Linked DNA regions of Homo sapiens. The protein of the gene in region 1 purifies or fractionates together with the protein of each later gene. This does not show direct contact. Each region holds a gene or a part of one and is shown on either strand. Other genes may lie near its edges. The genes, in order: ZC4H2, AGGF1 and RNF220.

Region 1 (10,863 bases):
GATTGCTGTAGGAAGAGACGTAGATATAAAGCTGAGATTTATCTGTGAAACTTCCAGGCGGACAAGCCCAGTAGGCTGTCATATGTATGGGCTAAAGCATGAATGTGGGTGGGGTATAGAGGTTGGAGATTTGGAGGATAATATTTGAAGCCATGGAAGTACAGGAATTTACTCAAAAGAGTGTGTAGAAAGAAAAAAAGAAAAGAAGGACCCAGTCGAGAAACATTCATTTAAGAGTACCTACTTAACTCAACATCTCCTTCCAAAATGGTTTTTCTTTTTTTCAAGTGAGGAAAGCTCTTTGTGTATGGATATGTGTACATCGGGGTGTGAGTGTACGCAATACACATGAATGGATGGCATGTGCATTTTAAGGAAATATTGTTTTGTACTTGGGGAGCTGGTGTAGGGCTCTGGTCCATTTAATGGTGCCTGTACTCACTGTCTCTGTTTTATTACTGCTATCCTCCCTTTCCCTCTTTTCTATCTCCCTTCTTTTGTTCCATTCTTGTCTCTCTTCTTCCACTTATCTACATGCTCCTTCATCACCATTTAAAAGTCCAAGGAAAACATGGGCAAAATAGATTAGTGTAGGATTTGGAGGCTGAGGTTGGGAACATAATGTGGGAGTGTGATTGGGATTGGGAGGAAAGACAGGGGTAGGCGTGTGTTCAGAGTTAGAAGCAGAAAATGGTCTGTGGTGGGAGAATCTGCTTCTGATGTTTTTCCCACTGCAAATTCTGCCATTGGTGTGAGTGCTGAGTATGAATGCATATATTTCTGGGCTCGTGTCTTGATGTGTGTAAGGCTCTTAGCTTGACTTCAATAGGTCATTAGATGATGCTGCTGTCATCATTCCTGCTTCTGTCCAGCAAACATTATTTCTTTAACAGAAATATGCTGCTATGCTTATACTTCAGGAGATTTAGGATTATAGCAGTTGAAGAACTGTGAATAATGGTTAATCAGATAATCAGCATTTGTAAGGGCAGTTAATAACATTGAAATGTGCATGCCATGTGAATAGGAGGATATATTATTTTTTCTTTCCTAGCTGTGTAACCATGGGAAAGTTGCCTAATCTGTCTGATCCTCAATGTCCTTATCCGTAAAGTGGGGGTAATAATTCCTATCCCAGATTTCCTTTGGGAAGACTAAAGAGTAAATGAGCCAGGAGCTTTTAAATTAAAAGGTGCTTGACAAATGTTAGTTCCTTTCTTCAGTTTCTTTGACCCTTTGCTCCTTCCTTATTTCTATCTCTCATACATGTTTATCTGTCCATATGTGAACATCAAGTATATATTTATAGTACTTTCTCCATTTTAAATTCTTAAACCAAGTGGCTTAACCTTTGTATATTACTGTAAAATTGTCAAAAGCAGTTTAATTTAAGTCACTTTTGGAACACACACATTTGGAATTGTTATGTCTTCTTGGTAGATTGACTATTTTTCATTATGTAATATCCATCTCTAGGAATTTTCTTTGCTCTGAAGTCTGTTTTATTTGATATTAAGATGGCCATTCCTGCTTTATTTTGATTAATGTTTGCAAGGTATTTAGACTATTTGTTGTGAACATAATTATTGATACATGAAGGCTAAGTCTGCCTTTTTATTTTTTTTTCTGTTCATTCTCCGTAATTTTAGTTTCTCCATTTTCTTTGCCCTGCCTGCCTGTGGGTGACTGGAGCATTTTTTAAAAATTCATATTGATTTATTTATAATGTTTTGAGTACATTTCTTTGTATAGCATTTTCAGTGTTTTCTCTCAGTAATATATTATGTATACATAATTTATTTAATAGTCTTCTGACATTACCACTTTACATGCTTGAATGAAGTGTAGAAGCATGTCCTCCCCTTTACATCTCTTTACATTTACAATCCCCTTTACATTCCCCAGTTTACAATATAAATGTGTTAAATATTTCCTCTACATATGCTGAGACCACACTAGATAACAGTATAAATTTAGCTTCAATTATCAAAATACAAGAAATTTCAAGAGGAAAGAGAAAGTCTACTGCATTAACCATGCTTTTGCTTACTGTTTATTGTTTCTTTTCTGTTTTCAGAGCTTACTATCATCTTTTTTTAGGGTATATCTAAATTCCTTAGTATTTCTTCATTGGAGAATGTCTTGATTACCCATTCAATACTGAAGGATATTATTATTGGACATAGATTTATGGGTTGTCACTTCTTTTCCTTCAGCACTTACAAAATGCTAGGGCATCGTCAGTTTCTGATGATAAATCTGTCATTCTAATTTTTTTTTTCCTTTGTAGCTTTTGTTTCTCTTCAGCTGTTTTGAAGAAGTTTCCTTTTTCTTTCATTTTCAGAAGGTTGATTACAATGTGTTTTGGAGTGTGTTTCTTTGTGTCAATTATGTTGGTGTTTGCTCCTCTTCTTGAATCTAAATGTTTATGTCTTTTGCACAATTTGGGAAGATTTTAGTCATTATTTTTCCCAATACTTTTCCAATCCTGCCCTCTTTCTCCTGGGAATTTGTTGGCATAAATGTTAAAGCTTTTGTTATAGTGCCACAGTGATTTCTATTGTTTTATATTTGTAAGCTATTTTTTCCCTCTCTCTTCTCCACCTTACTGTTGAACCTATCCATTGAGTTTTTTGGGGTTTTTATGTTACTGTATTTTTCAGTTCTAAAAATGTCACTTTGTTCTTCTTTATGTTTTATATTTCTTTGTTGAGACTTTCTATTCATTTTCTGAGATTTTCTACATTATCATTTGTTTCAAGTGTATTGTAACTGCTCACTGAAATGTTTTTAGGACAGGTGCTTTAAGATCCTTATCAGATAATTCTAACATGGGTGTTATCTCAGTATTGGCATCTGTTTATTTTCTCTTCTCATTCAAGTGGATATCTTAGTATGGAAAGTGATTTTTGATTAAAAGTTGGATACTCTGGATCTTATTTAAATCTTTTGTTTTAGCAGTCCTCTACCACTCTCTTGGATGGAAGAGGGACAGTAGAAGTCCAGTTTCTCCACTGTCTCTTGACATCCAGTTTGGAGAAGGGCTGTTTGTTACTGCTGTTTAGAGGTGAAAGTTTGGCCTTCTCTCTGGGCCTATGCTGATTCCATCCTAGCTGGTTGAGGTAGAAACTCCTAGTTACCACTGGTAAGGGTAGAAGTCATGGTTCTCCATATGGTCTTCACTGGGAGAGGTCTATTTTCACTGGGGATTAAAGTCCTTGCTCACAACTGGTCCTTCTCTGGGCATGGGGTGGTGGTTCCTTTGAAGCTTGGTGAGAGTGGAAGTCTAGGCTCTCCATTTGCAAGCCTAAGCTTCTGACTAGCTGCATCGTTATGACAGCTGGCATTCTACTGTACTAAGGTGTCTCACTTTCTAGCTAGCTTCTGATGCTTTTGCCAAAAAAAAAAAAAAAAAAAAAAAAAATTGCAACATATTCCCTTCTCCTTTCCAGACTTTACCTGGGACATAGTGGGAAAAGGAATACCTTTGCAGGCAGACCAACAAAATGTGGCAATTTCAAGCTGCGTGGCTGTGGGAAAATCACTCAAATTCTCTGGGCCTCTATTTCCCCAGCTGTAAAGGAGGAGTAGGAAGCTCACAGGACTCTTGCTGAATGAGCAAAAGTAGGTCAAAGGGCCTGGCACACAGGGGCGGGAAGGGACTCAATAAATGATAGTTCCCTTCCTTTACCTCTCCTGTAGAAAGAGAGATGCAACCCCTCAAGAAGAAGAAGAAACCAAGGTGCTTTACCTACCACCACTAATCACCATGTGTAGGTCTCATCCAGCACTCTAAGGGTTAAATCTCATGATCAAAGTCTTATTTCTTAAAGAAACACACTTGACATCTTCCACCTTGGGTTCTCAGAAAACACTCCAGGGAGAGAGCTTGACCCAGGCCACTCTCAGAGTGAGAGCAAAAGCCAAAGCAGGGGCTCACGCTGAGAAGGCGAGGTGAAGAAAGACCTTGTGCCAGCCCACACAGCCCGCCTGGCGCTATTGTGTTCTGAGCAAGGACAATATCATCGCTTTGCCAAAAGCTGCTCCAGGAGCAACCGTGTAGCGGACTCCACTTCGGCAACTCCCACTTTGCCAGCCCGCCTGTCACCTCCAGCTCCTCAGAGCAGCTGTCGCGATCCCACCATCAGCGCAGCGACCGCGTCCCCAGTCCCCATTGCTCCCATCCCCCTCCCAAGCGCGGGATAGGAAGGAAGAAAGTGGCGAGTGAGTGAAAGGAAAACGAGCGCGCGCCATTCTCCCAGCTCCGCCCGCTGAGATTCCTCTGCAACCCCCAGTTGGCAGCCCCTGGCAGCAGCCACCAGCCCCGATGCGCTAGACTTGGCTCTCAAAAGCCTTTCCCGAACTCCAGGTTCTGAAGTTGAACAAGAGACTGGAAAAAAATCCCGACTCCTAAAGAGCAAGGAGCCAAAGACACCTTGGGGCACACAAGTACTTTTAAAAAACGTGTCCATGAATGCAGAGCCCTGACCTCCACCTCGAGAAGAATAAAACTGTCTTGGTACCAAACCCGTGTTTCTTCATCTTTGCTTTCTCAGCCACATCTGGCAAGAGGTCTCTCTCTCTCTCAACTCTCCTCAGCGCCCCTCCCATCCTCACCTCTCCGGCAAGTCTGTGGTGAATGGGCCCCTTTCCAGCTCCTCTAGACAAACAGCCCAACAATAGATAATTAGCCCTCTCCCGCAACGAAGGGTTGGAGAGGGGCGGGGAGGGGGACAACGTGCCACTTACCTGATCTCTTTAATGCTTTCCAATTTGCACATGATTTCTTGCTCATCTGCCATACTTTTCACTGTCAATTTCACGTCCCGAGAGATGTACAAATACACCAGCCAAGGGATACAATAGACACAATGTAGCCACCTCCTCCGGGCTTGGGGCTATGAGCCTGTGCGGTAGGGGCTTGGAGAGGCCTGGGAGCTGTAGTCCGGAGCTTCAGGGCCAGCCAGGAAGCCCGGGGGCCTGTAGGACTACAACTCCCAGAAGGCCAAGCGAGACATGCCTGTTTCCCTTCCTGCAGCCGCACTTTAAATCAATTTGTTATAGATAATTATGTCAAAGGTTGTGAAGAGTGCAAAGGAATGGGGATATTCGTCTGGCCCGTGTGTGGGAAAATGGAGAAAAAAATATTCCTGAAGGCAATTGGAGAGATGAGAGACATACCCATTCGCTCCCTTCGGGGGCCCTCGCACCTACCCACCCGCAAAAGATTAGCGGTAGTCGCTAATTACGCCTTGGGGATGGAAAGAAACCCTGCAGGGAAAGTAGCTTTGGAGACGTTGAATGTGCTAGCTGCTGCCTGGGGACCAGTAACTTTGGCATTCAATTTAGGGTGGGGCGGGGGTGGGGAAGAGGAGGATGGGAGGAGGGAGATGCTGCAAAAGCTGGGGGAAAGGAGAGTGGGTAAGTACTTCCAGCTACTTACCCATTCAACAAACAATTACTTAAGCTCGGACTTTGCCAGTCAATGGAAGAAGTACTGTAGGAGTCACCGGGCAAGGCAGATAAATAAAAGCAAATCCTTGCCTTTGAGGAACAGAAGAGGCTGAAAATTTACCTATTAATTACAGTACAGTGTGGTGTCAAAATACAGGAATAGATAAGGTGTAACCTGTGCAGAGAAGATGTAAATAGGTCTCAAGAGTGACTAAGAATTTGTCAGACCATAGAGGAGAATGGGCTCTCCAGGTGAGGATACAATAGAGAGAGAAAGGAAAGGATGAGTGGTTCAGAGTGCCTGAAATATAGGTTTCTTATATGAGGTGTAGAGGTGGAAAAAAGAAATGGGAGATGTAGTATTTAGAAAAGGCAGGTAGGAACCAGACTATGAAATACGTTAAATGTCAGACTAAAGGGTTTGGACTTAATCCTGTAGGCAGACATTTATCTAATAAACTTTTAAATTAATTAATTTATTTATTTATGAGACAGTCTCACTCTGTCGCCCAAGCTGGCGTGTAATGGCACAGATCTCGGCCCACTGCAACCTCCTTCTCCTGGGTTCAAGCAATTCTACTGCCTCAGCCTCCCGAGTAACTGGGATTACAGGCGCCCACCCACCATGCCCGGCTAATTTTTGTATTTCTTAGTAGAGATGGAGTTTCATCATGTTGGCCAGACTGGTCTTGAACTCCTGAGCTCAAGCAATCCACCCGCCTCAGCCTCCCAAAAGTGCTGGGATTACAGGCATGAGCCACTGCGCCTGGCCCTAATAAACATTTTTTAAGTGCTTATTCTGCACCAAGTAATGTTTAATTATTTTATGTTTCAAAGCACGGTAGTGATAAGGATGGAGGAATATTTTAGAGAGGGACTCTGGAAGCAAAGTGGAGAATGATTAGAGGACATGAGACCAGGTAAGAGGCAGTTACTCAGCGTGCACAAACAGGCCTAGAGAGCTGGACGTTGGGCAAAAGGAAGATGGTGACTCACTCCCAACTAAAAGTGAGTCAGAACTCTCTCTGAGTTTGTGCTTTCTTTTATTGAGCTTCAGTTTCCTCATCTGAAAAATGTACCTAGTGAGCCCACCTCAGAGGCTTGTTGGGAGGCCTCTATGAGATCATTCCCATGATCATGCTGAATACAGGGCTTGGTATTTTGTAGGAGCTTGAGAAGTTTGTGGAACATGAATCTCATGTCATTCTGGATGTCCACAGTGATTTTAAGCATTCTCCAGGGAAGAAATTAAAGCCCTTCTCTTCTTTGGATCCAAGATGTAATAACTTTCTTAACCATAAAATTCTCCCTGGTGTCTACATTTTCCTATTGTCTTGAAGGTTGCTATCTTGTACAGCCACTAGTTGGTATTTAAAGAACATTGAGTTGGTTAGTCACAAAGCCTGTGGATCCAGAGCCAAGAACTGGCCCCAGCTCTGTCCCGTAAGGGGAGGAGGTAAGCAACAAGCCTGCGTTAAGTGCCTGACATGTACTGGCTACTGTGCTGAGTCTGATATGTACAATCTATCATTTCATCCTCACAACCACTATGAAGGGGGCAAGTAGATTCATCCCCTTTTAGAAGGAAGAAAACTGACTCAGATAGGGAAAGTTGTTTTGCCATGTCCACACAATAAGTTATAAAGCTAGAGCCTGTGCCCAGTTTGGACCAAGTTACTTGCAGATTAATGAAGAGAGTGTGTCTGGAAAAAAAAAATATATATATATAGCAACCAAAACTACAATGGGGTCCCGAGTGTATGTATCTATGTCAAACATAAAGTGGTTTATAATGCATTAATGCTGGCTTGGGGAGAAGCGGAGGGTTTGTATGGGATGTGTGGGAAGCAATTTATGAACAGCCTTTGAGATTTTAAATTTAATGTCTCTCTCTTTTTCCATTGTCCCCTTCACCTTAAGAATCCTTACCACTGACTATGTTCACACATCTGGTAAAAGTCTGGATGTGGGTATGTATCTGTTTCAATTAAATATGTTAATGGGTTTAGAGTCTGATTTGGTAATAATTTGGGAACTATCTTGTCTTTCAAGCCTCACCGAAATCCTAGTTTACAGATGAGGAAACTGAGACCAAGAGAGGCAAAGGACTTGTCTGACATCACCCTACTTGGCTGAAACAGAACCAAGACTCCTGACTCAAGGGCCTGTGCTCTTCCTATGGCCCCATGCGGCCTGTATCAAGCTGCTGCTGCTACCATGGGGCCTGAATGCCTCTGTTACTTTTCAGCCAGAAGGTGCACTCCAATATAGGGTGTCTGCAGAGGGCCAAGCATGTCCCATGCTTCCAACTATGGACATTTAAGGGAGATAGCAGTTAATCTAAGAGAAGAGGCCATGGGAAAACCTGGAGCTTGGAAGAAGGTTTGTGCTATTTGTAACAATTAAAATGTCCAAATACAGAAAGAGTAATGTGCCTCTTAGCTTCTGCTGGTTTGCTTTTGGCTCCTTGACCTCCTTGAGAACAGATGTCTCACCTGTTCCTTGCTGAATTTTAAGAATCCAGGCTAGCAGTGAGAGGAAGGAAAATGTTGTAGAGAAACAGTGGGGAAGAGAAGGAAACTATAGCCTTCTGCCCCTTCTTCTGAAGCAGCACTTAAAACAGTATCTGCAAGCCAAGGTGGTGGCTTTTCCATAGTAAGTGTTCAGTAGCTCTCAATTGATCAGAAGTTTGCAATGGCTGAAACAATATTTAAGATATGGGCTAGCAGTGAGTTCTAATGCATGATTTTATTAGAAGAACTGATTGATTTGAGGGGTTAGAAATAAAAAAAAATCTTAGTTTTATCAGGGCCAACATTATTCTTATTGCTAAGGCAATAAGGCAGGGTATGTTGGGGTTAATACCATTAAAATGCAAGAAATTAGCAAAAGGGAAGCCAGTCAGTCTCGATTATACTTTCAGGGAATAGATCAAGACTTTAAAAATGGAGGCCAGAATATTGAATTCACAGATATTTCTTTGTACTTCAACAGTGAACTAAACTAAAAGGAGGCAGAGATGCAACAACAGTCTTGGTTCCAAATTGCCTTTCAAAAAGTAGTGCAAATTACTTATTAAATTTCTCATTATATTTCTTAATCAGCATTTCTAAGAGAAAAGTGAGCCAAAAGTTTTCAGCCCAAAAATGTTTATTGTGCACCTATGATATGTCAGGAACCATCGAGGTTTCAGTGAAGATTTCATAGCAGATACGACAGACATGGGCCCTGCCCTTACCAAGCTTACCATTTAGTGAGAGAGACCAGCTATTACAAAGATCATGCATACATATATAGTTATACCTAGCAATCAGGGCTTGAAATAAGTCTAGGTTCTGTGAGCAAGACACACACACATAAGGGGAGAACCAATTTAGTCCTGAGAAGTGGGCAAGGAGTCAGGGAAAAGCTTCCTGAACAAAACTAGGCAGGATGAGAGAGGAAGGGAGGGAAACAGCAGGAGGTATCGAGGATTAATTCATGCAAACAGCCAACAAATATTTACTGAACACTTACTACATGCCAGGCACTCTCCTAGGTTCCAGGGATATATAGTGCTTTGCATGTATTAAGTTAGTTTAATCCTTGCAAAAACTTCACAGGAAGTATATATTATTATCATCCTTATTTTACAGAAGAGGAAGTTGAGGCACAGAGAAGTTAAGTAACTTGCCCAGAGTAACACAGCTAGTAAGTGGCAGAACTGAGATTCAAATTTAGAGAGTCTGCCTCCAGAAGCCATGCTCTCACCTACTATGTTCTATTAGTTACCCAAGATCCCAGTTCTTAGGAAGTTTACATTCTAGTAGGAGGAGCCAGACAATAATGACAGAAAAGAAAAAAAAATAAACATAATAATATTTGGGGGAGATAAGCCCATAAGACACTAATTGAGGATAATAGGACAGAATGATGGCAGGAGGGGGAATGTTTTAGTTAGGATGGTCAGGGAAGGCTCCTGTTCAGAGATGACATTGTAGTGGAGACATAAGGAGTTGGGCATACAATGATCTGGAGGAAGAGTGCTCCAGGCAGAACGAATAGCCGGTGCAATGGTCCTGAGTCAGAAAATGCTTAGCCTATGAAAAAAAAAAGTAGGTAGGGCTCTGGCTGATTAAGGGGAGCAGAAGTAGACTGAGGAGACAGTTTATGTCATTGAACTGTTATTCTAAAAACAGGGTCTTGTAAACCATGGTGATGAGTCTGGGTTTTATTCTAATTACAATAGGCAAACATTGAGGGTTTTAAGCAGGGGAGCAACATGATCTAGTTTTTAAACATCACTGACTGCTGTGAGAACAGATTTTATTGGGGCAAAAGTGGAAGTAGGAAAACCAGTGGGAAAACTATTACAGTTGTCCAGGAAAGAAATTATGGTGGCTTGAATTACAGTAGTAATAGTAGATATGAAGAAAAATGGGCTGATTGGGAACATATTATTGGGCACAGAACTGATATGATTAGCTCATGGATAGGATGGAGAGGTACGGAGGGCGAGATAAGGCATCTAAAATGACTCCTGGATTTTTGGCTTCAGTAATAAGGTCAGTGCCATTCACTGAAACAGGAAAGACTGGAAGAGAACCGTACGATGTTAGAGCTAGAAGGCACTCACATGTGATATATGGAAAAACTGAAGAACAGAAATGGTAATTGACCTCCCTAGGTTAGGGAGTTAGGAGCTGAGATAGGTAATCTCATTCTTCACACTCTCTCAGAAAATTTTCATGTTCTCCATCACTTCAGCCCTTCAGCTGGGGTGTTGAGGGGTGTGTTTGAAGCCTTAACTTTGAAGATTCCCCTAGGAGATGGGACTTGTGGGTGATTAGCCAGAATTTGTATCTGCTTACATAGACAGTGCTAGGTATTCTCAGGCAATGTTTCAGCTGAAATTCTTGCTGTTTTTGATGGCTTTATGTCATTGAAATTTCACTCCTCTATTCTTTCTCACCTACCCAATGTCACTGACCTAGATCCCCCAAATGCAAATTTCAGGGAACAAAGATCTGGCAGTGGAAGTAGGGGAGTCCCATTTTTCCCCTCTGCAAGTCCGAAAAACCCTAGTGTAAAAAATCCTATTATAAAAGCAGTCTAGTGTACATCTACTGCATTTTCTTAGTAAACTTTCATCCACACCCTCCCCTCTTCTTCAATTCTCACCTCTTTGAGAGTGACCAAAACTGACTGTCTAGCTCCAATGACCTTCCGTTTCTAACAGCCTCCTTTATATCACCAGAACTAAGTATGGGATTGAGTTTCCAAAAGGGCTGAGTCTTACCAGGTTCCCTGCACATCTTTCCCAGGCTGGGGTACTTTAGAACTACTCATAGGGCCCTTGTCCCCCTCACAGAGCTGTTTAATGATTAAATGAAAAGAGATAAGTTATGAGAAAGCACCTAGCACATTGGT
Region 2 (10,665 bases), on another chromosome or scaffold:
TTAAAATACACGTCTATCAACAGTAAATCTCCTGGTTATGGATTATCCAGTTTCCTTACTGCTACTCTAGATTTCCTGTGCTTTCACACAGTGATTATTTACTCATGTCTTCTTTCCCCCTAGACTGTGCTTCCTTTGGGTAGACATTTTGCATTAGTCCTCTTTGTATCCACAGCACATAGAATAATGCTTAACATAATGGCCAGGCGTGGCAGCTTATGTGCCTGTAATCCTAGCACTTTGGGAGCCTGAGGTGGGTGGATCACTTGAGGAGTTCGAGACCAGTCTGGCCAACATGGTGAAACCCCCGTCTCTACTAAAAACACAAAAATCAGCTGGGCGTGGTGGTGCACGCCTGTAATCCCAGCTACTCAGGAGGCTGAGGCAGGAGAACTGCTTGAACCCAGGAGGCGGAGGTTGCAATGAGCCGAGATCGTGCCACTGCACTCCAGCCTGGACAACAGAGCACAACTCTGTCTCAAAAACAAAAAACAAACAAACAAACAAAAATACATGCTCTTAATAAAGCCTTTCTGAAATAACTGAAAGAATGATATAATAATATTAACCATTTTACCTTCCAATTGTAGCAGGGTTTACAGCAGTAATGATAAAGAGTGATCCTATCTGCAACACAGGTGATCTAATGACAATTACTCTAATACATGGGGGCCAAATTTTGTCTTCATCTGCCAAGGAAAGAAGTGAGTAAATATTAATTTAACTACTATGAAAAAGAACTTCATAGGGATAACTAGGAGGCATCCATAAAATAAAAATGTGTTGGTCAAAAATCTTAATTCTGACTAAAACAAACTTCTTAAATTCTGCTGTATAATACGCAGCAATGGGTAAGGCTTAACACTGTTATTAAAGTGATCCACATAAAGGTTGCTGCATATTTAGCATCTATCACAGTTATCAAATAATCAACTCTTTCTTTTTTAAGGTTTCAGAATCTGAAAAAATCCCAAATATTTTTATATTATTTTAAGTTATAAAAATTGAGTCCATTAAAAAAAAAAAAAAAAAGGCCAGGCACAGTGGTCCACACCTATAATCCCAGCACTTTGGGGGGCCGACGCAGGCAGATCACCTGAGGTCAGGAGTTCAAGACCACCCTGGCCAACATGGTCAAACCCTGTCTCTACTAAAAATACAAAAATTAGCTGGGTGTGCGTGGTGACATGCGCCTGTAGTCCCAGCAACTTGGGAGGCTGAGGCAAGAGAATCACTTGAACCCAGGAGGCGGAGGTTACAGTAAGCCGAGACTGCGCCACTGCACTCCAGCCTGGGCAATAGAGCAAGGCTCTGTCTCAAAAAAAATGCAAGAGAAATGCCATTGAGAACCAAAGAACAAAGTAAGCTCATATACTACACAGTTGGCCCTCGGTATCTGTGGGGGATTAGTTCCAAGATCCCTCCTCATATGCCAAAATCTATGGATGTTCAAGTCCTTATATAAATTGTATCGTATTTGCATATAACTTATGTGCATCCTTCTGTATAACTTAAATCATCTCTAGATTACTTACACCTAATACAATGTAAATGCTATATAAATAGGTACACCATATTTAGGGGACAATAACAAGAAAAAAAGTGTGTACATGTTCAGTACAGATGTAGCTATCCATTTTTTTCCCTGAATATTTTTGATCTGAGGTTGCTTGAATCCACTAAAGTAGAACCCATGGATACAGAAGGCCAACTGTAATATGAAATCCTGTGTTTTAAAAGTATGTCTTTATATATTCAAGTAAAAAAAAATTAGATTTACCATAATATCCATGTAGCTGAATTCATAATGTATACTTTTTAAAGACAACTTGTTTTTCTCTCTCAGTTACAAAAGTAGACTACAAATATCTAACCCACTAAAACAGCCTTAATCTATATTTTAAGATTAGAATCCAGGTAACCTGGCTTTGTATTCTACTGACTATGCCATTCAATACAATGAAACCTTCTGAAGGTCTAAGTATTAGTCATTTATTCACATCCTACTCTCTAAGAATAACCAAGTGGCAACCCACAACATTTTCAATAACATCATTAAAATAATGTTTACTTTCTGGCAGATATACTACAACTCACTAACATTTTTAATGGTTTTGCTCTTTTATAGTTACCAGACTGGGCTATTTACTTAAATAATGATTATTTACTCACCTTCATCCTCACTATCTTCTGCAGTTACATTGCCTTCACTGGTAATGGCTTCGTCATAACTATCCTCAGTCTGAGAGTCTGTAATTTCACCTTCCTCTGGTTCACTATCAGTCTCCATGATTTTCTCATCTTTAAATGATGTTGAATTAGAGATGTTTTCATGAAGAGGAGACTCTATAGTATTTCCACTAGTTGGAACAGTGACTTTGGGGGGACTATTTTTGTGATGAATGCCTATTTTGGCCTTCTTTTTCATATTTGCGAAATTTTCTTCCTCATTGCAGCTTGTATGTTCAACACTGAAGGCTTTTTGATCCTCTGAGTTCAAATCCTGGAGAAGGGTGGGTAGATACGAGGGAACAGGGGAGAATACTCTTAAACATCACTATCTTATAACATTACATCAAGTTTCAACGAATTCGTGAAGATATGTGTCAGTAAAATAACAATGGTTACAATCTGTTCCCCCTCTCCTTCTCACATTTCCTTTCTTGGTTAATGATATTACCATCTTCTTATTATCCAAATTAAAAATCCTATAGTTATCTCTGAGATCCCCTTAACCATATATAAAATTACGAAGTGCTACAGACTTTTCTCAAAATATATCCAAATCTGTCTCTCTATTCTCAATGTCTTAACATTCCTAGTTCAGGCCCTCATCACATACTGCCTGGACTATGGGATAGCCTAGACCAATGGTGTCCAATAAAAATGTAACACAAACCATATTTGTACTTTTACATTTTCTAGTAGCCACATTTAAAAAGTAAAATTATTAATGAGATAGTTTACATAGTCTGCAACATCCAGAGTGTATTTTACACTTAACAGCACATTTGAGTTTGGATTAGCAAAACTTCAAGTGCTCAACAGCCACATGGAGCTGCTGGCTACCTTACTGGATAGTGCAGGCCTAAAGAATACCTATTCTAAATTTTCTTTTTAAACTGGTAATCAATTAGCTAGTCAACACAAATAAAATACAGAATTAGCTTTACTTATGACATGAATTTAAAGATCCAAATGTACTCAATATGTAGCAAAATTGTAGTTTTGCTAAAATTTAGTACTTCAGATTCAGCTTGATAATACATAAAAGTTTAAAGTACAAATTAACTGTGACTATCTTATTCCAAAATTTTAACTTGCCTGGCATAAGTCTTTTATTATTTATTGTACATTTATAGTTGATATGCCTTATAATAAATGAACATTTTTTAATTAACAAAAATGATGTATTTTTATCATGTACAACATGAAGTTTTGAAATACGTACACAATGTACAGTGGTTAAATTGAGCTAATTAACATGTACATTACCTCAAATACTTATTTTTCTGTGGTAAGAAACTTAAAATTTGCTCTCAGCAGTTTGCAATAATACAACACATTGTTATTAACAATAGTCACCGTGTTATACAATGGTCAAATCTATCATTTCAGCCTTAGAAAAAGTAAATAATTATTTTCCATTTTTTTCCCTTGGTTTCTAACGCACTCTCACTTTTCTTTCTACCTCAGAGCAACATGAGGCGAATTCATATGCTCTTCTGTTATTTTATAAAATATGAGAGCATCTCACACACCTTTCTTTCTTTTTTTTTTTTTTTGAGACGGAGTCTCGCTCTGTCGCCCAGGCTGGAGTGCAGTGGCGCGATCTCGGCTCGCTCCAACCTCCACCTCCCAGGTTCAAGAGATTCTACTGCCTCAGCCTCCCGAGTAGCTGGGACTACAGGCATGCGCACCACCATACCCAGGTAATTTTTTTATTTTTAGTAGAGATGGGGTTTCACCATGTTGGCCAGACTGGTCTCGATCTCTTGACCTCATGATCCATCCACCTCACATACCTATCTTTGATAACAGCGTAAGTTCAGCTTGGAGACTGGCTAAACATTCACAGTGTGATAAATTATACACACTTCTAGCAATACAAATTCACCCAGAACAAGAACAAGGGCAAGGAGCTGAAAAACCATGAGGAGCTTTTACATTATAAAATTATAGCAAAAAAGTTCCCTATCTGTATATACTCTTAAAAAAGCAGTTTCCAATCTTGTATATTTATTACTTACTGAACAACATATGCAGGGAAAGCTATTTGCCAGTACAGAACATTAGATAGTCATTAAGTGAAAAGAAAGGAGGGCTTATTTATGGGCACTGAGGCACATATGTATATTTCAAATTATTTACTCCTATCTCCCCTACTGTCTTCCTTCCACATAACCTTCACCTACAAAAAGTGAGGCTCAAAAATATCTTTAAAAATAAAGAAAACAGATGAAGATACTCTCTTGGCCTCACAGGTACCTTTTAGAATCCTCAGGAAATTCTCAAAATTCCAACAGGATTTTTCTTAAAAGTTCTTGTCGAGTGCTCAATGGTGCCCAGGCTGGAGTGCAGTGGCGTGATCTCGGCTCACTACAACCTACACCTCCCAGCCGCCTGCCCTGGCCTCCCAAAGTGCCGAGATTGCAGCCTCTGCCCGGCCGCCACCCTGTCTGGGAAGTGAGGAGTGTCTCTGCCTGGCCGCCCATCGTCTGGGATGTGAGGAGCCCCTCTGCCTGGCTGCCCAGTCTGGAAAGTGAGGAGCGTCTCCGCCCGGCCGCCATCCCATCTAGGAAGTGAGGAGCGTCTCTTCCCAGCCGCCATCACATCTAGGAAGTGAGGAGCGTCTCTGCCCGGCCGCCCATTGTCTGAGATGTGGGGAGCGCCTCTGCCCCGCCGCCCCATCTGGGATGTGAGGAGCGCCTCTGCCCGGCCGAGACCCCGTCTGGGAGGTGACGAGCGTCTCTGCCCGGCCGCCCCGTCTGAGAAGTGAGGAGACCCTCTGCCTGGCAACCACCCCGTCTGAGAAGTGAGGAGCCCCTCCGCCCGGCAGCTGCCCACTCTGAGAAGTGAGGAGCCTCTCCGCCCGGCAGCCACCCCATCTGGGAAGTGAGGAGCGTCTCCGCCCGGCAGCCACCCCGTCCGGGAGGGAGGTGGGGGGGATCAGCCCCCCGCCCGGCCAGCCGCCCCATCCGGGAGGGAGGTGGGGGGTCAGCCCCCCCGCCCGGCCAGCCGTGCCATCCGGGGGGGGGGGGGTCAGCCCCCCGCCTGGCCAGCCGTGCCGTCCGGGAGGGAGGTGGGGGGGTCAGCCCCCCGCCCGGCCAGCCGCCCCGTCCGGGAGGGAGGTGGGGGGGTCAGCCCTCCGCCCGGCCAACCGCCCCGTCTGGGAGGTGAGGGGCGCCTCTGCCCGGCCGCCCCTACTGGGAAGTGAGGAGCCCCTCTGCCCGGCCAGCCGCCCCGTCCGGGAGGGAGGTGGGGGGGTCAGACCCCCGCCCGGCCAGCCGCCCTGTCCGGGAGGGAGGTGGGGGGGTCAGCCCTCCGCCCGGCCAGCCGCCCCGTCTGGGAGGTGAGGGGCGCCTCTGCCCGGCCGCCCCTACTGGGAAGTGAGGAGCCCCTCTGCCCAGCCAGCCGCCCCGTCCGGGAGGGAGGTGGGGGGGTCAGCCCCCCGCCCGGCCAGCCGCCCTGTCCGGGAGGGAGGTGGGGGGGTCAGCCCTCCGCCCGGCCAGCCGCCCCGTCTGGGAGGTGAGGGGCGCCTCTGCCCGGCCGCCCCTACTGGGAAGTGAGGAGCCCCTCTGCCCGGCCAGCCGCCCCGTCCGGGAGGGAGGTGGGGGGGTCGGCCCCCCGCCCGGCCAGCCGCCCCGTCCGGGAGGGAGGTGGGGGGGTCGGCCCCCCGCCCGGCCAGCCGCCCCGCCCGGGAGGGAGGTGGGGGTGTCGGCCCCCCGCCCGGCCAGCCGCCCCGCCCGGGAGGGAGGTGGGGGTGTCGGCCCCCCGCCCGGCCAGCCGCCCCGCCCGGGAGGGAGGTGGGGGGGTCAGCCCCCGCCCGGCCAGCCGCCCCGTCCGGGAGGGAGGTGGGGGGGGTCAGCCCCCCTGCCCGGCCAGCCGCCCCGTCCGGGAGGTGAGGGGCGCCTCTGCCCGGCCGCCCCTACTGGGAAGTGAGGAGCCCCTCTGCCCAGCCAGCCGCCCCGTCCGGGATGGAGGTGGGGGGGTCAGCCCCCCGCCCGGCCAGCCGCCACGTCCGGGAGGGAGGTGGGGGGGGGTCAGCCCCCCCGCCCGGCCAGCCGCCCCGTCCGGGAGGTGAGGGGCGCCTCTGCCCGGCCAGCCGCCCCGTCCGGGAGGGAGGTGGGGGGGGTCAGCCCCCCGCCCGGCCAGCCGCCCCGTCCGGGAGGGAGGTGGGGGGGGTCAGCCCCCCCGCCCAGCCAGCCGCCCTGTCCGGGAGGTGAGGGGCGCCTCTGCCCGGCCGCCCCTACTGGGAAGTGAGGAGCCCCTCTGCCCGGCCACCACCCCGTCTGGGAGGTGTGCCCAACAGCTCATTGAGAACGGGCCAGGATGACAATGGCGGCTTTGTGGAATAGAAAGGCGGGAAAGGTGGGGAAAAGATTGAGAAATCGGATGGTTGCCGTGTCTGTGTAGAAAGAAGTAGACATGGGAGACTTCATTTTGTTCTGCACTAAGAAAAATTCCTCTGCCTTGGGATCCTGTTGATCTGTGACCTTACCCCCAACCCTGTGCTCTCTGAAACATGTGCTGTGTCCACTCAGGGTTAAAAGGATTAAGGGTGGTGCAAGATGTGCTTTGTTAAACAGATGCTTGAAGGCAGCATGCTCGTTAAGAGTCATCACCACTCCCTAATCTCAAGTACCCAGGGACACAAACACTGCGGAAGGCCGCAGGGTCCTCTGCCTAGGAAAACCAGAGACCTTTGTTCACTTGTTTATCTGCTGACCTTCCCTCCACTATTGTCCCATGACCCTGCCAAATCCCCCTCTGTGAGAAACACCCAAGAATTATCAATAAAAAAATAAATTAAAAATAAATAAATAAATAAATAAATAAATAAAAAAAGTTCTTGTCTTGGAATTCGCACATTTTCAAAGAAGAATGGCAAAGATGAGTAGTTATGGGAGCGAGGCTGGACCAAAATATCACAGAATGCTTTCCATGTCTATTCTCTAGTTTTTCAGGCAAGGCCATTTGAGGAGCCCTACATATTCTTCTTCTATTGTTAGGGAGAGGTGCTTTCACAACCTAGCCTTCTTCTTTTTTTTTTTTTTTTTTTTGAGATGGAGTCTCGCTCTGTTGCCCAGGCTGCAGTGTGGTGGTGCGATCCTGGCTCACTGCAACCTCCGCCTCCCAGGTTCAAGCGATTCTCCTGCCTCAGCCTCCCAAGCAGCTGGGATTACAGGCATCTGCCACCACACCTGGCTAATTTTTGTATTTTTAGTAGAGACGGGGATTCACCATGTTGGCCAGGCTGGTCTTGAACTCCTGACCTCAGGCAACCCGCCTGCCTCGGCCTCCCAAATTGCTGGGATTACAGGCATAAGCCATCACACCCGACCTACAACCTAGCCTTTCAAACAATCAAACCACTAGTAACAAGCACAAGCCATTAAAACAGAGATCTTGAAAGCAAACAGAAAACTGATTTTTAGTATTTTAGTCACATACTCTTCTATTCCTAAGTATTGTTCACAAAAAAATAGAACAGAAGCAAATCAAATAGGAGAACAGAAAAAATCTAACAGAATCCTAATTCCTTATGTGAACTTTACAATTTAGTATCAAGTAATTTTTCTTTGGTTAAGAAAAGAAAAACTGGCTGGCACAGTGGCTCACGCCTATAATCCCAGCACTTTGGGAGGCTGAGGTAGGCAGATCACTTGAGCTCAGGAGGTCGAGGATGCAGTGAGCCATGATGGCACCACTGCACTCAACCTGGGTGACAGAGCAAGACCCTGTCTCAAAAAAGAACAGGACAGGACAGAAGGACAGAACAGGACAGGACAGAAGGACAAGACAGGACAGAGATAGGACAGGAAAGGACAGGACAGGAAACCATGAGATAAAATTTCAAGAGTAAGATATCAAATAGTTGCCACAGTTCATAAAATATCAATAAAACAAACAAGCCTCCTTTATAACCTATAAACCACCAAACTTACCTGTTTAGAGAGTAGAAATAAAGAACACTGTTAACTTTTTATATTTTCCTTCTTTCAATTTAACATTGCATCATCATAAGCATTTTTGGGGTTCCCCTTAGTCTTTACAAGTACCATCTGAAAGCCTACATAATACTTTTTTAAATTAAATGTAACTATCGCTTTCTTAACCATTGTCTTGCAGGCCATTTAAACTATTAATCCTAATAAATATGTTATCTCACTCCACAGTTGTCAGCAATGGATTTTTTTTTTTTTTTTAATATTTTCCTGGCCGGGTGCGGTGGCTCATGCCTGTAATCTCAGCACTTTGGGAGGCAGAGGCAGGAGGATCAGCTGAGGTCAGGAGTTCGAGACGAGCCTGACCACATGGAGAAGCCCCGTCTCTACTAAGATTACAAAAAAATTAGCCAGACGTGTTGGTGCATGCCTGTAATCCCAGCTACTCGGGAGGCTGAGGCAGGAGAATCACTTGAACCTGGGAGGCGGAGGTTGCGGTGAGCTGAGATCACGCCATTGCATTCCAGCCCGGGCAACAAGAGTGAAACTCTGTCTCAAAAAAAAAAAAAAAAATTGTCCTAGTAAGTAAAAAATTGCTCCACATAACTAAGAAAGTTGAACCTGTATCTATGTCTACCTATAAACTGTGTTTATCTTTTATTATGAACTGTGCATTGACATCAACTTATCAACTGAGGATCTGAATTCTTCTTCCAAACTATATACGAGATATTTTATCTGACCTTAATCTATCTCCTTCAAATTTTAAGAAATGCTTTCTATTTCTAGTGACAGAGTTTATGAAAAAGTCCATGTTTGCTCCATCTAAACTTTCCTAGGTTATCTTAATGGGTATGTTTGAAATGCAGAGTTATTGAATGATTGTCAGTTTCATAAAAAATTTTGTCTTAATTATCATGTTATCACCATTATGTCAATTTTTAAAATTGTAAAGACATTACCTTTTCCTCATTTGTTGCAGAAGAATCTGGATCTTTTCTTTTCTTCTTCAATTTTTTATCTTTACTTTGTTTTGTGCTAGAAGTCGGATAAGGTTGCAAATCTACTCGAGAATGAAACTGATAACGACCACTTTCCACATCACAATAGTAATAAATTCCAGTGGAAGGATCATAATAGAGTTGATTTTCCTTTGAAAGTCAAGAAAAAAATAAATTCTATTCATGTAAGATAAAATAAACTTAACGAAAATGCCAAATACATTCAAATGTGGTAAATATTTCTTTGAACAACTATAGTATTTTCAGAAGACAATGAATTAAAGATAACAATAAAAAATGCTTTAATCTTCCAAAATACTTTACCATTCAATAACTGATCTAATTTTCCTAGTGTGAGAAACAAGTAAATCTAAATATTAAATTTAATCATATAAAATTGTCAATACTTGACCACTTTTAACTTATAAGAAACAGCAATTTCATATGGTTCCACTTAATACATTAAAAAAATTGATAATACTTTTAAAGGCATGAAAACTAAAGCAAGCATAAGAAAAAGCTGACCATATGAGCGCAATTCTAGACTCCTGATTCTTAATGACTGCACAATAATGGTGTGGCAGTATAAACCCCTAAACCCTCCTCTCAATGTCATAAAACAAAGATTTGTCTTTTGATGTTCATAACTTAAAATTAGAGAAGAAAATTTTGAAAATAAAGTTCATGCATACCAAAAAATAACATTCTATAAAATGCAATCAATAAACTGTCTCCACTAATTAATCAGTTCTATAGTAAATAAGACTTACAAGCAACCATGCATAAATGAATTTGGCAAATTACAGATTTAAAAACCAGAAAGATAAAATTAGGTAATCACCTATATTTATGATATACTGGCCAGTACTCTAAAACCAAATTTAATTGAACAGTCTATATTTTATTTACATCCTAAATCCATGCAGACCAGACCCGGAAACATCTTTAATGTACTGAGATTGAGCAACTAAAACTTCCTGAAAAAGAATAATTTATTTTTCTAACTATTGACACTTGCAATTTATTGTCTTTAATCCATGCATTTTGCAGATCTCTTACAAAAAATATTTAGATTTCTCACCATCTTTCTCTTAACTAAGAAACTGAGTGGAGGCTTTCCAATCTTTATTTCTAGTAATAATGGAACTTTTATAATTCAAACCTTTTAAATCTGTTTATCAGTCCAAAATATAGACATTTTCAAAATATAAAAAAAATTTATTAAAATATTAGCACAATGAAAATGGCAACACAATGAAGTTCCTAATTTACTCAGAAATATAACCTGCAGAACGTACTAACCATTTACAAAACAACTGATGTCAAGAGAAAAGATACAGAAAGACAGGCAGAAGATTGACAAAGACTAATGTCTACTTGAAACTATTGTTTTCCTAGAAACTAAATAACTACTCCCTTTGGATAAGTGTTTAAACATTAATTTCCTGGTTATTAATTAGCATTGTCAATTAGCAACCCCCATGAAAGAAAACCCT
Region 3 (10,665 bases), on another chromosome or scaffold:
AAGATGGTATAGGAGACTGGCCTTAGGGAATAATAATGATAATACAAATAAAATAGCTAAAATTTATTAAGCACTTACTAAATGCCAGAGATTGTACTGAGGGATTGATAATTATCTTATTTACACCTTACAAAAACCCCATAAGATTCTAATATCTCCATTTTATATACAAAGAAACTAAAGCACAGAAAGATTAAGTAGCTTGCTCAAGGTCCCCACAGAGTCAGGGAGATGGGATTCAAACCTGGCAGACTGATTCCATGATCAACTAATAACTGTGTGATTGACCATGACTATACTGGCTACACCCAGGAGGAGGTGGGGCTCCAGGCCAAGGGAACAGCAGAAACAGAGGCCAAGAGGCCCAAGAGCCCAGTCTGGCTAGAAGGCCCACATGTAGGCAAAGTGCTACAGTAAGAAAGGAGATGGCATGCAAGAGGACCTCAAATGCCACACCTGAAGGAGCTGAAGTTTATCTCGTGGACAGCAGGAAGCTGCTGAGGATGCTGGAAGAGTGGGGGTACGAACAGCTCAGGTTTCACAGATGTACTCAATCAGGAAGCAGAGGCTGGACTGAGGCGGGGGAATCATAAGGGACGTGGACTTTGGGCAAGGACAGTCTCCTGGGGGCACCTGTTCTGCAGTTTAGGGGAGACAATTGGCTCAGGAAGCTTGAGAGCTTACAGGTGGCCTGTCATTGCTGGATGTGAGTGGTAATGGGAGTGCAGGGAGGGTAGTGGTCCCATTTCATGGGCAATACAACTTCAATCTCTGGCCTTTTTCCTTTGGGGAGCTAGCAGCAACACAGAGCGTGACTCCTTAGTGGCTGTGTCCTTGTATCAGGGACACTTAAATCCATCACCCTAGGGTCCATGATTCCCTCTGCCTTGCCTCTTTCCAGGGATGCCAAGAAAGGCTCTGACTCTTTCCTCCTGGTACTGGCTGATTCCCTGGGGGCTTCCATTTAGCTCTCTGGCTCTGGAAGCCTTTACCATCCCTTCCCTCCTCACAAGCCTCCGAACAGCAGGCTCCTTCCCTGGCATTTTGCACAATGCCATATGTGCCATCCCCATCTGGATTACAGGTAAATTCCTGATAAGGAGACAAGGATTTGTAGCTGTGCTCCCTTCCACTCCAAGGACTAAGCTGAGAATTTGCCTAGTCCTATATAGTTATGTCAAAGATGGGGAAACTAAGGCCTGCAGCTGGGGGCAGCCTACACCAGAATGGAGAACTAACTCCCAAACCCCAAATCAGAGAACTAGAGCTGGAATGGCAAAGAAGGATGAGGCCAGGAGAGAATGAAGCCATTTCCCATGCCATCTCCAAGAGCTACAAGGCCCCACTGAAGGCCAATAGCCAACTCCAGAGCCTACCTATCCTGGATGTGCTCAGCACACACCTGCCCTCCAATCTTGGCTCTGGCGAAATACCCAAGCCTCCAACCCCTGGTCCAGGCTGGCTGTGAGCTATTCCTGAGTCCCTCCAGGGCATGGGGTGGGGAGATTCCTGGAGGAGCCATGGCATCCTACCATTCCTTTTCCCTGAGTAGTAAAACAGATCTAGGGCAAGAAATAGAGAAATCACGGGGACTGATGGGCCCCAGTCTCAGCAGATCCAGACCCAGTGGAGAGCTCTGCACATGACTGAGCCAGTCTCCACCTCATCATAGAGATCCCTGCCTACGGGTGCCTGTGCTCACACAGGTGGGACAGAAATCCTGGCTCCCCCCAGCCTTGGGTGGGTTGTACCTTCATGGAAGCCACTGGCTCTGCCCCCACCTCCCCCTCGGGCGCCATCCCTGATTAATGATCTTGTCTTTCTGATTTATGAGCAGCCCCTCCAGACGAGGGTGGGTGCCCCTTACAACCCCGCCCGCCCTGCTCAGCTGGAGTAGGAGAGAATTATTAAATAAACATCCATACGTCATTCCTCCCCACCACAAGCTGGTTGCGCAGAACCCATACGGCCCGCTCCGGCGCTGACACGGAGCAGCTGCGGTGATTCATGGGCAGCCGGGCCCTGCGCCGCGGCCCATACATCATGCCAGCAGCACTCGCGGCCCCGGCCGAGATAAACTGATCAACCACAACGGGCTGGAATGAATTTATGACAACACAAAATGGAGGGAAACAAATGGGAGGTGACCCTGGGCCACCGACCCGGCCCTGCACCGGCCTCCAATCCACTCTCCTGGCAGGAGGCAAAGATGGAACACTGGCCCTGGAATGAAGAGGCTGCCTTTTAACCCCAGGCAACCTAGCCTGCAGTCAGAAGGTGGGGTGGGTACTGGAGTTAAGCAATGACCAATGGCAGCAGCACCAGGCAGCCTAGACTGGACAATGCCATCTCCTGAGGCCAGAACTGGCCTTCCTTGGGCTTCTGGGAAGGCAGGAAGATGCCCAGCTGATACCAAATCTTTGTGGTTCCCAGGGATCCAGGCCAGGGGTTGCTCAGCCCTGGGCAAAGTGCTAATGGATCCCTTTTCCTCTGCCAGAGAACCCAGGCCAAAAATTCCTACCAGAAGTGATGATACCCAATGTTCCTGCCTAAAATCCACTGCGAGTGCCACCCGGGACAAGAAAAATGAAACCAATTTAGCTCCCGATTAAGAAACAGAAACTGGAGATGAATCAAGTGTGCCGGCTGGGCTGGGCGGCCATACATCACATTCCCCGGGCGAAGGCCGCCGCAGCAGGCGGGCAGGCAGGCAGGCAGGCGGGTGGACTGCTCCTCCCACCGCCAAGGCTTCTGGGGCCGTGGCCCAGTGATCAATTCACAGAGTCACGCTTAGCACCAGCTGGGCTCCACTGCCGGCCGTGTGCCCAGGGCAGCAGCACTGAGCTGCACTTGGGAGGGCCAGAAGCCCTGGCAGCAGGCCTTCCTGCTAGCAAAGGGCCCCTCCTCCCACTGAACTGTGGTCCCAGGGCTCTCTCCTGGCCAAACACTTACTTCTCGATGTCGCTGTTCTTGCAGGTCTTCTGCATGGCCTCCTGCTTGCTGCTTTCACCATTGCTGGTGGATGGCATCTCTGCTGGGACAGAGGGGCAACTCACACTCCGGCCAGACTGGGCAGCACAGGTGAGGGGTTGGGCTTGAGTCAGTCACCACCATCTAGGGATACCCCCTCTCCCCCATTACTCCTAACCTGGGGCAGGACTTACCATCACTGGCCCATTTAGAGAACTCAGGTGTGATGCGCGTGCTGGGAGGGCCGCCACTGGAGGAAAGGAGGGAGGAAAAACAAAGTGAGGCCTGAAGGCGGGCAGGACAGCCCTGAGGGTCAGTACTGCGTTAACCCCTGCCTCAGGGCTTCCTGTTTCTCTGCTCCACCCGCCCAAGCCTGTGCCCACACTTGCTTTAGGACTGCGCCCCGAAGTGCCTCTCTCTCCTTGGCTTCACCAGGCTCCTCGCCTGTGCAGGGGATGACATCAGCCTCTGTGTATCTGGCATGGTGGTCAAGGACAATGGATCCTAGTTTGCAGCAGGCTATGAGGGTTGAATCCTCAGGAGAGCATGGCCCTCCTGGCCAAAGCTGAGACTCTGGCCCGGGGGGTGGTGCAGGTGAATACTAGAAGAGCTACTTTTCTTATTCCCTGTGCCTGCCCTATCAGCCCCACCAGCCCCCATAGTGCTCCAAGGATACTGTGGCTTCCCATACTCCAGAGTGTCATCCCCATCCACATCCAAGTCAGCATCACTGTCCGGGTTCTCTTTGCCGCTGCACATGATGAAGCCAGAGCCTGTGGGAAGCAGGGTGTGAGGAGGGCCTGGGGACAAGACGAGGCCAAGGGTGCCCCTCCTGTTGCCTCCAGGTAGGGGTTAGGCTTTGGACCTGATAAGGCCCAGAGGGAAACCTGGGCCTGGGATGTATAGAGCCAGATACTTCAGTGCCCCTGACCCTGACATTTCAGGCCCTTCACTCTGCAAACCTCATCTTTCTCTGCTACTGCATGCTGCTCCAAGTGGTCTCTGCTCATAAACTAGCCCATTCATATATTATGTCACGTCCTCGGGGACACTCAGCCCAGGCCTGCTGTCCACCTATCTTCCAGGTCTAGGAAGAACAGTAAGAGGACAGAAAAATTCAGGTCTAGGAATTTCACAGGAAAAGAGTGGGGCCTCCCCTATGCCCCATTATCCAGCCTGACAAGTCCATCAGAGGAGAGAACAGGCTGGCTAAGGCCAATCAGAGCCACAGAGTGGGACCCCCGGCCAACATCCTGATTTTGGCCGCTAGGTCCTTGCCAGCAAAAACACCAGGCAGCTGTTCAAATATTTGGTGTCTGAAGCGCCTGACATTAATTATTCATCTCCACCTCACTCAGCCCAGATTCCTGGACAAGTGCAGTTATAAAGGGATTAAGAAGGGACAGACGAGGGAGGACAGGCATGCACACCTACTTCTCAAAGCAGTCCATGAAGGCAACCAGGCTGAGCGGAGGCCAGGCCATGGGCCACGCAAGTGGCTGACCCCTGAGGTGCATCTGGCACAGCCACAGACGGACTCTCAGCTCAGAGGGAGGGGCGAGCTGCTGGGGCTACACCAGGCCTGCTCACCTGCCAGGCGATCTCTCTGACATCCAGGACCACCCTTCCTGATAGCCTAGGGTCAAGTGCTATAGAGCTGTTCCCCCCAGCTCCCCACTTCCTCCTAGTGGGTCTCAGACCACACCTCACTAGCCAGCACAGCCCTGCCAGGGACAAAAGAATGTGAGACTCTGTGGCTACTGGGATCAGCAAGGAAATCCTTAAAGAAGTGAGGAAGCAGCTTAGTATCTGCCTGATGATTTCAGACATTTCTGCTTGTCCACTCTTTCCTCTCAGGTCCTTATACTCTCATTAGGGTATGTCTTGTAGGGAGTCCTCAGGCCTCTTATCTGTTCCTTCATTCTGCTTACCACTGAGTTCTGACCACCTTTCCTCCTGCTCCAAAACCATTGATGGCTCCCCACTGCATGCACAACCAAGCCCAGGCTCCTCAGCCAGATCCATGAAGATCTGGGTCCATTTATGTCTTTACTCTTGCTCTCTACTAATTCACTCTGTAAACCCCAAGCATGTGCACACACAGGCTGCTCACCAAACCACAAACATAGCCTGTATATGCTGCTCTTAAGACCCCTGCTCATGCTATTCACTCCATCTGGAATGTTCTCCATTTTTCAAGCCCTGAAAAACACTGAGTCTTGATCCTTCTCCCTTCTACCCCACCAGTCTCTGGTCTCACAAAGACACCACCAATCCCAAAGGCAAGCAGCATCGGGAAGGAAAGATGCCAGGCACAGCCTGCAATCCACCTCTCCCTGACAGTCCTCATTTGCCCTCTACCCTGAGGCACTGACACACTTGAGGCAGCAGGCAGGTCAGGTCAGCAGCAGGGCCATTAAGCTGAGAAAACACCAAGTTACAGCTCTGTCTCCTGTACACGGCCAGGTGTCCTGACAAGCAATTCCCGCCTTGTGGGTGAGTGGCACCTCCATAAACCCTCTGACAGTTTGGGAGACAAACTCCACCATCAATCAGAATGTAGCTATCAGGTTCACTTACAGCTTGCGGCACCCAAGTCCTGCCAACCCCCCTTCCCCAAGTACACGCAGCTCAGCAGCTGGCCTCACATCTTCTGCTCGGCCTGGCCCTGCCTAGCCCTGCCTTATAAGTGGAAAGCAGAGAACCCTGGCACCACATGTGAGCCCAATATGGCTCCATGGCAAAGCAGAGAAAACAGGGTACCCCAAAGCTGCCAGGAAAAGCCCCAGCTTCTCAACGCAGAAAGCAGCCCTGTAGCCTGAAGTCCTTTTCTCTGTAGTCTTACTGCCCACCATGCCTGGCCCAGGACTCATACTCCATTAAACAGAGCTACTGTGGTCTCCCAAATCCTGTGCTTTCTCATGCCCCCATGCCTCCGCACCTCCTGCTCTCTGCCTAGAACCTTCTCCCTCCTGGTCTACAATATACATGCCTGCTCCTTTGGCAAGTCTGACTCAGCCCAACCATGCCTCCTACCATTAACTCACAGTGCCCACACAGAGCAGCTGCTCTCTAAATCCCTGCTAAAGGAAAGAACTCTCACCTCAATGCCATTCTTTCAACCTTTATTGGGCTCATCCTCTGTTTGGCTCCATGTTGAGAATAGAGAGCTTCAAGATCTGATCCCTATCCTCATGGTGCTCTGCGTGGCAGATGGGGCTTCCCACGTTCTTATACACAGGTGTCCCTTCCCTGGTGTCCACCCAGAATCCTGTGTAACTCCAAAATCATATTTATTACCACCTATTGTCACTGTCCCTCACCAGAGTGGAAGCTGCAAGGGTCCCAAGTTTGACTCACTGTTGTGATCTCAGCATCACCCAGCAGAGCTGGCCAGGCTGATGGCTGGTGCCACACAGCACACCCCAGCAGTACTGGCTAAACACTGGCGACACTGCTCTATTAGGTCCTAGTTAGCTGGTGGCCTAGAGAAATCTCTCAGGATACAACTTTCCTTATCAGATCCCAGCTCCCAGCCGGGCAGCAGCTTTCTGTTCCGCTGGCCAGTGAGGCAGGATGGACAGCACGACACACTTTGTTTGCCAAAGAAAAGGCCTCTGCCTCTGGTCTGAGCCATTCACTCTGACCCTGACCCCATCCTCCAGCTGAGACAGATGTTGGGAACCTCTCCCTACCCCCACAGGTGTTCAGAACAGGCTGCTGCTGCCAATTTCACTCTTGTGCTGCCCCAGCCTGCTCCAACCTCTTTCCCAGCACATTAAACTTTATTTTCTTAATGAAATGTCACTTGCTGACTTCTGGCAGAATCATAATAAAAAGAAACGGCCATAAAGCCGTTTTATGCAGACAGCGCCCCCGCCAGCTTGCCCCCCCTCCCGCTTGGAGAGGAAGGCTCCACAGTCGTTTGATGTTCTCAGCTGCTGGAATATCCCAAGCCAGTACTCAGAGGCAAGATGGCACAGACAGCTCCTTTCCAAGTCTCTGGCTCCTCTTCCATGTAGCTCCAGCGATAACAGGCAAGCTGCCACTCCTACTACTGCTATCTAGGGAAGGAACTCAGCCCCCAGGACCTCCAAGATGGCCCAGAGTACCCTTCAGTCACCAGGGAGGGCCTCTTGCTACAGTTCTGCCCCAGCTTAAAGTGGCATAAAGGCCTGAGCCCCCACCCATAGGCAACCTAAGCCTGATGGTCAATGATACCCAGCAGGGTGGTGCCAGAGTTGTCCATTCCTGGCGGGGTGGGTAGTGCAAAAAAAAATATCCTTCTCCTCACAGTGAAAACTGAGCAACAAAGAGGGAGAGAGTTAAGTGCAGAAATGAAACACAGGTCTACGTTTTATAAAAACGACCCTTCTCCCATAAACTCATTTCTTCCTGGGTTATTGAGAAGGGAGAAAAAAAAAATCAGTGTTAATTTAATCAATTGATCAGATGATCGATTGAGAAACTGGAGATGCCCGTTTACTGGGGGCAGTATCGTCCTGGAACCTGAAACCACAAAAAAGGAGGCATCGATTTCCTCACCTGCTGCTCCCAACAAAACCAGAGCCCAGGGAGAAAGGAAACGTCTCGGGGCCCTCCAGGGGCCTGTGCTCTCCAACACGGAGGGCAGGGGCAGCAGCTTCCGGCGAGTTTTACACTGGAATTAGTTACAGATGCAGTTACGGTGTCTTGTGTAAACGCCATCGATTGGGGAGCTGACAGTCTGGGGAGCTGCGATGCGGGACAATCAATCGGCCTGCAGTGTCACCTGCCACCTCGCTGAACAGTTGACAATGCAATTATCCAGTGTGGAGGCAGGGAGTTGGCGTGTGTCAAACGCACTTAGCCACTTTCCGGGCCTCCTCGATAACGCGTTTCACTGCCTCACGTCAGGAGAGACGCAGAGAGACAGACGCCGTTTAAAACCATTGATACTTGCTCCTTCTGCCTGCACTCCCTCTGTCCTAGCTTAACAATTGTGTTCCAAAAGGCGATTAAATCCCATCAGTTGCCACGGGGGACAGAAGGTGCCTTGCTCCTTGCCACCTCTCCTCACCCCTCCCAACAGGCGACAGAGAGAACTAAAGATGGTAGGGAGTCACAAGGCAGCAGCCCAACCCTCTCCACTCCAAGACCGCCTCCAGCAGTGTGCTGTTCCAACACCTGTCACTGGCTGGACCAACAGCAGAGCTGCACTGGGGGACATTTTTAGCACCTGGGGCTCCCTTCTTTTGAGAACTAGCACACCAAAGAAGGCAGCAGCTAGGGCAAGGCCTATGTGCCCATGCCCTGGGGCTTACAACACCTCTTACCCCCTTGCCCCATACTTCTGGCGCTGAAGTTTTATCAAGAAATAGCCAGATAAAAGATTTGTGCCAGGCCGGGTGTGGTGGCTCATACCTGTAATCCCAGCACTTTGGGAGGCCGAGGTGGGTGGATCACCTGAGGTCAGGAGTTCAAGACCAGCCTGGCCAACATGGTGAAACCCCGTCTCTACTAAAAATACAAAAATTAGCTGGTTGTAGTGGCACATGCCTGTAATCCCAGCTACTCGGGAGGCTGAGGCAGGAGAATCTCTCGAACCCAGGAGGTGGAGGTTGCAGTGAGCCGAAATCGTGCCACTGCACTCTAGCCTCCAGCCTGGGTGAAAAAGTGAGACTCTGTCTCAAAAATAAATAAATAAAAAGGAAAAGAAAAGAAAAGAAGAGAAAAGATTTGTGCCACAGCTGCTCTGCCTGTTTGCTTCATGACTTCTCATCCAGCTACTTGGAACCGGCTTAAATGTAAGGAACTCATGAAAGATAAGAAACGCTTCAGGCCAGGACCTGAGCAGGACAAAGACCCTGCACTGCTGACTGTCTTAACACCCTTCTTTTCCCTACCCACTCCTCCTGTTTGGTTCAGAGGGGCTTCATGCTGGATTTTAGCAACGCAGTCACCGCCAGGGCTTAAAGATACAGCTGCAGGCTTCCATTTCCTGTGAAGCTTCCTGGGAAATTTCTCCATCTCACCACTCTTGTGCCCACATCATTGCCACCTTATTTGAAACCAATCATTCCCATGTCCTCTTTCCAGCATGTCCCTTCCAGATGTGAGGAGCTCTGGGCTCCCCAATGCAGTTGGGTGAACTCTCACTGGCAACCAACACACAGGAGGGACCATGGTTCACCACTATAGGTCTCTTCTCCAGGATCCAGGAGCTGGATGGAGGACAGGAGAGGAAAGGCATGGCTCCTTAGTCACACACCTCCTTAGACTACAGGTGGAAGCAGGCTTGTCTTAAGGGCTGTATAGTTAGGTTCCCCTGTAGTCTGCTTCTCTAGCCTAGAAGCCCCTTGCTCTGCCCAGGTTTGGCATGGTACCCAAGAAAAACATCTTTTCTCCCTAACTGCGGATCTCTTTTAGTGGAATGTTGGTGGCGCACTAGGCTCTGTGTGCTGTCCTTTATGTAAAGAGCAGTAGCAGGTTAGAAAATCTATGGTTCTGAAAGGACAATCAACAACTTAGACACACAGCTTAAGTATTTCTTCTAGAATTGGGAAGGTCAGAGTGCCTCCTAGGCAGCAAAAATTCCTTCCAACTTACTTTCTTGAAGTAATACCTATTTCCTTTAGTCTTTTCAAAAATCTGTTTCCAGTGGGACCTACCTCAGTGCTCACCTGCTCTGTCTGCTTCTTTATTTTGTCCTAAAATATCAATCCGAGTACTCCCAGGCCTGAGATATCTGGAGCTCCTCCTCAGTAACCACAGGTCCCCATCTCTAAGGCCTGTTGCCCTCAGCCAAGTGTCTCCACCGAAACTCTTGCCCGTTCACTGCTTCCCACAGCAGATTACATTTGAGGTAACCGATCTGATCCATCAGACCAACCTCCAGGGGCCTGGTGGGAAGCTTTGCTGAGGATGAAGAAGAGGCCCTACTCTGGGAGGAGGGATGGGGGTGATCGGATACAGGAACTTATCTGCAATTCTTCACTTCTTTCATATCTAACAACGACAGCAATCTCTGTTCTGTCAGCACGCACAGCGCAGTTTAAATGGGCCTCGCCACTCGCCTGCTCATCCTGCCTCTGCCTCCTTCTCTCTGAAGTCTGCTGGGCAGCTTCTTCAGCTGGCGTTATCACTCCCTCTAACCGGTCTTGGCAGGCAATCTAATTCCTCCTGAAAAGGTCACCGCCATTTTAACTGCCTTTCAATCACATTAAGCACGCGCTGCCCGGCTTGCAGCCCGGCCCGCCCGGCGGGCGATCAATGCGCTGCACTGACACCAGCCCGCCTGGCGAGGCCACACCCAACCCCCCAAGAGTTAGGGCCTATCAGTCCTGGCCAGGGAGGGTAGGCTGACAGATGGCCAGCTTTTGCAGACAGGGTTTTGGGGGCAGAGGCAGTAGGGATCAGCCAGGGCCTCCCTTTGATAGCCCCCCCACTGAGGAGCCTCAGCCTCCTCCGCTCCACTGCGCCCCGCTCTCTGCCTCGTGGCCCCCGCTGATCTCGCTGTAAAACAGCCTTTCAAGTCTGCCTGTCTTTTGACTGCACTAAGCTGTTTAAGAGGCGGCAGCAGCTTCTATCAGGAAAGCTGGAGCAATTCTCTGCAGATAAAGGCACCTCCGGCCCCTGTTCCCTCTTCAAGTCTCACTCTCATTCTCGCTCTCCAAATCGCTCAAAGAAAAGCCCCCTTTGAACTCCCCTCAGGAA

Evidence for each region.
Region 2: the proteins of ZC4H2 (region 1) and AGGF1 purify together in Homo sapiens (affinity purification with mass spectrometry; 3 studies listed by BioGRID and IntAct, with this or other methods). This does not show direct contact.
Region 3: the proteins of ZC4H2 (region 1) and RNF220 purify together in Homo sapiens (affinity purification with mass spectrometry; 3 studies listed by BioGRID and IntAct, with this or other methods). This does not show direct contact.

The regions. Positions count from the first base shown.
Region 1 is NC_000023.11:64,971,576-64,982,438, forward strand, and holds the start of ZC4H2 (zinc finger C4H2 domain-containing protein), read right to left. Parts: upstream 4,876-10,863; 5' UTR 4,803-4,875; coding exon 4,750-4,802; intron 1-4,749. UniProt on the Homo sapiens protein: Plays a role in interneurons differentiation. Involved in neuronal development and in neuromuscular junction formation.
Region 2 is NC_000005.10:77,038,185-77,048,849, reverse strand, and holds part of AGGF1 (angiogenic factor with G patch and FHA domains 1), read right to left. Parts: intron 9,320-10,665; coding exon 9,131-9,319; intron 2,504-9,130; coding exon 2,173-2,503; intron 690-2,172; coding exon 578-689; intron 1-577. UniProt on the Homo sapiens protein: Promotes angiogenesis and the proliferation of endothelial cells. Able to bind to endothelial cells and promote cell proliferation, suggesting that it may act in an autocrine fashion.
Region 3 is NC_000001.11:44,637,776-44,648,440, reverse strand, and holds part of RNF220 (E3 ubiquitin-protein ligase RNF220), read right to left. Parts: intron 3,744-10,665; coding exon 3,647-3,743; intron 3,447-3,646; coding exon 3,360-3,446; intron 3,221-3,359; coding exon 3,165-3,220; intron 3,082-3,164; exon of another isoform or gene 3,032-3,081; coding exon 2,953-3,031; exon of another isoform or gene 1-2,952. UniProt on the Homo sapiens protein: E3 ubiquitin-protein ligase that promotes the ubiquitination and proteasomal degradation of SIN3B. Independently of its E3 ligase activity, acts as a CTNNB1 stabilizer through USP7-mediated deubiquitination of CTNNB1 promoting Wnt signaling.